Linked DNA regions of Homo sapiens. The protein of the gene in region 2 interacts with the protein of the main gene of each other region in a pairwise test. Each region holds a gene or a part of one and is shown on either strand. Other genes may lie near its edges.

Region 1 (3,500 bases), on a different chromosome or scaffold from region 2:
TTTAGTGGATATAAGCCATCTCTGTAAAGCAGCTCAACTCTTCAAGGGATGTCCAACAGAAAATAAGGATCAGATCTGGGTCTCAAACTTTTTAGTTAACAATCCTCAGGCCGGGCGCGGTGGCTCACGCCTGTAATCCCAGCACATTGGGAGGCTGAGGCGGGTGGATCACGAGGGCAGGAGATCGAGACCATCCTGGCTAACACAGTGAAACCCCATCTCTACTAAAAATACAAAAAATTAGCCCACCGTGGTGGCGGGTGCCTGTAGTCCCAGCTACTCGGGAGGCTGAGGCAGGAGAATGGCGTGAACCCAGGCGATGGAGCTTGCAGTGAGCCGAGATCGCGCCACTGCACTCCAGCCTGGGCAACAAAGCGAGATTCCAAGATTCTGTCTCAAAAAAAAAAAAAAAATCCTCAGACATTGTCTCTTTCAGTACATACACAAAAACACACACACACACACACACACACACACACATTTGTTTCCCCTAATATTCAGAGTCTCACTGTGTCACCCAGGCTAGAGTGCAGTGGTATGATCATAGTTCATTGCAGCCTCAAGCCCCTGGGCTCAAGCAATCCTCCCATCTCAGCTTCCCAAGTAGCTGTGACGACAGGCATGTGCCACCATACCCAGCTAATTTTTTATGTATTTTTTATTATTATTATTTTTTTTTGTAGAGACAGAGTCTTGCTCTGTCGCCCAGGATGGAGTGTTGGAGTGCAGTGGTGTGATCTCGGCTCACTGCAGCCTCCGCCTCCTGAGTTTAAGCAATTCTCCTGCCTCAGCCTCCCGAGTAGCTGGGACTACAGGTACACACCGCCACGCCCGGCTAATTTCTTTTGTATTTTAGTAGAGATGGGGTTTCACCATGTTGCCCAGGCTGATCTCAAACTCCTGAGTTCAGACAATCCACCTGCCTCAGCCTCCCGAAGTGCTAGGATTACAGGCATGAGCCACTGCGCCTGGCCCCCAGCTAATTTTTAAATCTTTTTTAGAGTCAGGGTCTTGCTATGTTGCCCAGACTTGTCTCAAACTCTTGGCCTAAAGAGATCCTCCCACCTCAGCCTCCTGAGCTGCTAGGATTACAGGTGTGTGCCACTGCATCCAACTTCATCTATATTCTCTTTGATTTATAAATCTGTATAACTGGGCCTACACTGAAATCCAGTACTGCCTGGTAAATAAAGCATCAGTTTATACTCCTGAAGAAAAAGAGTCTCTTCTGGCATTTTTCTTAAAAATGCAGGATGGGAAATTCTGCATCTTACTGCACGGGTGTCCCTGATGGAGTGAGAAGACAGAAAAATCACTGATCAATGCAAGACATGTTTGGAAGTTATAATAATGTCCACTTCCCTAGAGATATCCCAAACATTGCTCACATATAGCACATGATGGTTTTTCTAACTGCTCATTAGAGGACTAACCTTTCCTGAACCCTGTGTATTTCACTTACTCTAAAATTTTATAGAGCTTTCCATAAATATTTCTAAGGTAAGGTAAAATGAGTCTTATCATGTAAAGTTTTTTCAAAAATATGTTTTAAGCCATAGGAAATATTAAATTCCTTGTGAGTGGTGACACTATATTATACTTACGGGATTCTTCAGTGTAGAATTATGCAATATACATACCTAATAAACATCTACAGATTGGTGGGCTTTTTAATACTACAATTCAAGAGTGAGAGTTATGTTGGTTAATAGCCATAAATTCATTATCCCTGAATCATAAGAGAAGAATTCTTAATCTGCAGTCAATGGATAGGTTTAGAAGGTCAATGACCTCCTGAAATCCTACACAAGTTGTGTGCATATTAATAATTCTGATGAGAGAATCTGTGAAGCTTTTGTTTTCTTTTCAGAATCTCAGTCTATAATTTTAAAAGGTTAATAATCATTGTCCCAGGATATGACACAGTAAAACATTAAGCAATGTTGTAGACTAAAACCAGAAGTTGAAGGCAGAAACCAAGATTTAAAAAAATAAATTTAAGATCTTCCCCACTATATTATCAATTTATTTTATCTTATTACTATTTTTTTTGAGACGGAGTTTAGCTCTTGTTACCCAGGCTGTGGTGCAATGGCACGATCTTGGCTCACTGCAATCTCCGCCTCCCAAGTTCAAGCGATTCTCCTGCCTCAGCCTCCCAAGTAGCTGGGATTACAGGCGTGTGCCACCATGCCCGGGTAATTTTTTTTGTATTTTTAGTAGAGATGGGGTTTCACCATGTTGGTCAGGCTGGTCTCGAACTCCTGACCTCAAGTGATCTACCTGCCTCAGCCTCCCAAAGTGCTGGGATTATAGGCATGAGCCTGTAATAAATAGCACCTGGCCTATTATTTTGAGACAGTTTCATTCTGCTGCCCAGTCTGGAGTGCAGTGGCATGATCTTGGTTCACTGCAACCTCCGCCTTCTGAGTTTGAGTGATTCCCGTGCCTCAGCCTTCCAAGTAGCTGGGATTACAGGCATATGCCACTGCGCCCAGCTAATTTTTGTATTTTTAGTAGAGACAAGGTTTTACCATGTTGGCCAGGCTGGTCTCGAACTCCTGACCTCAAGTGATCCGCCCACCTTGGCCTCCCAAAGTGCTGGGATTACAGGCGTGAGCCACCATACCTGGCCTATATTATCAATTTAAATGATTTTATGCCAAATTAAAAACAAGTGGTCACCCTACCAATAAATATACGTATATATCTTTTTCTTGAACTTTCCCTAAGGAGATGTTTATATAATTTCCAAGTTATGTAATGTGACCAACTCTACCCTTCAGTTTTCTCATCAGTAAAACAAAGATAATTGAAGTAGAACTATTCCAAAACTGGGATTAACAAATTCTATAGTTCTACAGCTAGTTCCATAGAATGTTAACTAATAGTCCAACAATATGATATGTTTGGGAATTGCTGGGTTAACCAAAATCTTAAAAACTTTTTGTGGGTAAGACTCTTCAGTATTCCTATCCTAATATTTGTAATAAATCTTCAAGGAGAAATAGCATATCCAACTTTTTCCCAAATAAATTTGGCCACAAAATTTCTCTCTAGAGTAATCCTGTCCAATAGAAATACATTGTGAGCCACATATTAAATTTTTAAATTCTCAGTAGCCATATTAAAAAATAAAATACAAAGAATTAGGTGAAATTAATCAACAATATATTTCACTTAACCCAATATATAAAAAATATCCTGGCCTGGGCAACATGGTGAAACTCCGTCTCTACCAAAAATATAAAAAATTAGCTGGACATGGTGGCACGCCTGTGGTCCCAGCTACTTGGGAGGCTGAGGTAGGAGGATCACTTGAGCCCAGGAGGCAGAGGCTGCAGTGAGCTGAGATTGTGCCACTGCATCCAGCCTGGGTGACAGAGTGAGAGAAAGAAAAGAAAGAAAATTAAGAAAGAAAGAAACAAAGAAAGACAAAAAAACTGTTAATGAGGTATTTCATTCCTTTTTTGTACTCTTTGAAATCTAGTGTGTATTTT
Region 2 (4,029 bases):
AATGGTACTTTGACACCAATATATCACTCTAGGTGTGTTCATTATTTCTAGACCCACTCAGGGGCAAAGTTAAGAAATATATGTATGTATACTAGGACACATCTATATTTATTTTTATCTGTACATTTCTATAATAAAGCTTGAGATTCTGTTGATATTTCCAGTTCCAATCCAACACATCTGAGCTTATTCAAGCTTTTGACTTTCCTTTTTAAACTATTTTCTCCAAGTAAGCTAGACTTTGGTCTTCTAACACATAATACATTTGTTTCCTTGCTCAGTCCTAGTATATTCATATAGTAGTTTCAAAATTGATAATAAGTCTGTGGAAAAATAAATTTACTTCCTATAGAAAATTATTAGTGTACAGTTCTTTTGGTCTTTAGCCTTATATACACACTCAAAACATTGCATTCCAAAGTTGCTTAGGTTAGCTTTTTCCTTCTCCACCTTCTTCAGTATGGTTAAATTATTCATTTGTAAAACAGTTAGTTACATTTGTTACTGTTTGTGTTTCAGTTTGGCCTCCTTCACATCTTGGTATCTTGGTTGATTTTAAGTATGATTTATTTTTTGAGTTTGTGAAACATCATGGTTCTGAAATGCAGAGCTTTTCAAAAAGTTACAGTCAGAGAAGTGTCACTTTTCCTTCATCTTACCACTCCACTCACATTGCAGTGGTCTTCTATTCTTTCTACCACATTCCCACCCATCCTCCATAGATACCCAATCTTGTTAGTTTCTGGTTTACGCTTCTTGGATTTTCTTTTCTCAAATGAGAATGTACATATTTTCTTTTTCACATTTTCTAACACGAAGATCACATCATATAGAAATTTGGAAATCCCTCCACATCTGTTCATAGAAAGCTTTTAAAATCCTTTTAACATGTATCTACTCCTTTATGTGGATTATACCCCAGTTTATTCAATCACTCTTCAATGTATGGGCATTTAGATTGTTTCAAATATTTTGCAATTACAAACAATGCTGCAATGAATAACTCTGCTAACGTTATGCATGTGTATTTTTATATTGTTACAGGAGTAATTTCAGGATAGAGTCCTACCAACGGGATTGCTTGGTCAAAAGATGAGAGTATATAATTTTGTAGATATTGCCAAGTTCCTCTCCAGAAAGTTGTACAAGGTTGCATTCCCACCAGCTCATCTTGTATGTCATTTTCTAGAAAATGGAATTTTTCCTAGGTGCCCCGCTTGCTCTTCTGAATTAATTACAAAATTTCCTTTGGAAGCTTTTCACGTTCACATTTAGATCTTTGGACTGAGCAAAGCTGAGCTCGCTGAGCTCATGTATATAGTAGTAGTAATCTTCACCTGGGAAACATTGTGTTATACATATCTCTATACTTTGAAACATAGATACCATTCTAACCCATTCTTGGTCCTGATTTCTTGCAAGCCCCTCTGTGGGCAGGGTCTGGTCAGACTGTGGGACTCAGGTTACCCAATGGCTTCCTCCTCTCACTGTGCATCAGCATTCACACGTTATTCATGCAAGCCTGATAGCTCGCACCTGACACTTACTCTGTTGATTTTTGACTTGATTATGTTAACAGATTTTGAATTCTCTGCATTTGAAGATTGATTCTTTATTACCTCCATGTATATCAGTCTGCATATTGTTTTTAATTATTTCATGTAATGAAGTCACAGCATGAAACATTCTTTGAAAAACCATGGCTTGTTTTTTGTCTGATCTCTGCTGTATAGAGAGTAGCATATGCACAATTGTAATCATGCTATCTTTATCCAGGGCTTGATAAATTAAATATTTTGATAATTTTGTAAAGTTAAAAGGAGTGAAAAGCCTTCTTGTAGTGATGCTTTAATTTTGTGTTTTTAAGTTGAATGTCTCAATCCTTGTAACTTATGTGATCATGATACAAAATATATAATCTCTTTAAGATACAAGCAAATATAGATGATAGATACTGCAGTTTTCTTTTTTATCCTATAATAAAGAGTGGTTTGTTTCCACTATAGAGTTGGTTACTTCTGACTTGTTCCTCTGGAGGTTTATATTAAATTATCTGGCTTCCCATCACTTCAGCAGAAGATGGAAAAAAAGCCGTTTATTTTTCTGTGATCATGACCCATTTCCTCTTATAGCAATGGCCTACAGGATCTGCTGGCAAGCAAGAAGGGCAAACCAGAAACTAAAAAGATTGGGTATCTATGGAAGATGAGTGAAAACAGAGTATGCGTCTGTCCAATTCTGTAGCATATACTATGCTACCATAACATAGGAATCAATCAGTCACCGGCTCAGAAAGGTGGTGGCACAAAGATGTTATAAGGTCCTGGATTATAATAATGTGTTGCCTCTTTTTGCAGATCCCAAGTTGCCTACCTTCATTTACCTAGAGCTATAAATGTTGGGCCCAATAAAGAAAGTGACAGAGCCTATTAGGCAGATATTTAAAGATAACAGTAATTTAAGATGGTGTCAGAAAAGAAATAACAATCTTAGAACACTGGCTTCTCTGAATATCTGTTCCACCTCTGCTGAAGCCTAATCTGACACAGCAGGAATTAGAGCACACTAAGGTACACACAGCCACCTAAGAGGCCAGGATTTCATCTGGACTTGTATCCTGTAGCTGGCTCAGCTGCAGCCTATCTTGGGGATGGTCAACTTAGAGAAAACTAATGGATCCTTATAAATCATGAAATCCTTATAAGTCATAGTCTTACCCAGAGTAGAGATCCTCTGGACTTGGTAAGAAGGCAGCTTCAATGAGAAAGTTATGAGTCTTTATTCTCTTCTCTTTAGTTCTGAATTTGGCTGCACTGATTTCTCCCACTTTTTTTCTTGCTGGAACTTTGGACTTTTACCTTACCTCTCCAATGTCATGGGGCTTTCCAGACTTTCTAGAGACCTGTATTTATACATGTAAAAAACAATGCAACCTCTGCAAATAAATAGAGTAATATGACAGTCCATGATTTAGCAACAATAAAAGAAATTGCTGACAGCTGTGCTAGTGAGAGGATTTGACATAATTTCTCAAACAGAATCTTCCAATTTTATTATTGGAAGAGATCTTAGAGACAGCTTGCGATTATTAAAAAAACTTCAATGAATCGTTTAAAATAATGACATTCATCTCATGTTTGTGGGCCACATTGAGAAGTACAGGAATAAGAAAGCTTAATATAATATTATTTAGGTTCAATTGGCTTGAATATTAGACTCTTAAAATGGAACTCATTATTTGTGTTTAATAATGAGGACTCTAAATGCCCTGAAGGAATGTCCACGTCTTATACATGTTTGAATTATTAGCACCTAACTCAGGTCTTGGCACTTAACATTTAATAAATAATAATGAAGATAGTACCCGTTTTGTTTACATAGATTATCCCATTGTATTCTTATCACAAATACTTTTACCACAATGTTAAAAGAGGGATTTAATAATTTATTACAATTACAGAGCTACTAAATAAGATTTGGGCCCAAGAAGTCTTGCTGTCAGTCACTTCATTAAAATACCTCTGTGTTTGCTGAGTGTACAATAACAATGTTTTCTCCTTATCAGTTCCATTCTAGGCCATATTCTTTACACATACCATTTTAAATATCAAAATACCTCAAGATAAAGGTTGTTTATTATCCCCATTGTCCAAGGGGGAAAAATAATCAGAAAACGGGTAATTAATATGTCTAACTAAAGCCATTGAGCTACACACCAAGGTAGCAAGTAATTGAGCGAGATTCAAACTTGAAAATCCATTTGGTTAAAACCACATTGATTCTCTACTGCACATTGTCTCTAAAAGAGAGGAAGGTGGGAAGCGGGGAAGAGAGAGAGAGAAATGGAGAGCAGAGAGTAAGACTTCTCTGTGTGTGTGTGAATATTGATGAGATTTAAAGTGAAAGTAAGGCAGGGTTATTTCAAAACAGAACTATTGCTAGGAAATCACCTGCTTCTAAGTAATAAAATCTATTGTTTATATCATGCAAACAAAAAATAGCCCCAGGCAAAATTGAATCTTTGTGAAT

The links. The genes of interacting proteins can lie anywhere in the genome.
Region 1: the proteins of GBP7 (region 2) and PBX3 interact in a two-hybrid assay, tested with the Homo sapiens proteins (one large-scale study listed by BioGRID).

The regions. Positions count from the first base shown.
Region 1 is NC_000009.12:125,925,373-125,928,872, reverse strand, and holds part of PBX3 (pre-B-cell leukemia transcription factor 3), read right to left. Parts: intron 1-3,500. UniProt on the Homo sapiens protein: Transcriptional activator that binds the sequence 5'-ATCAATCAA-3'.
Region 2 is NC_000001.11:89,173,204-89,177,232, forward strand, and holds the start of GBP7 (guanylate-binding protein 7), read right to left. Parts: upstream 2,801-4,029; 5' UTR 2,718-2,800; intron 1-2,717.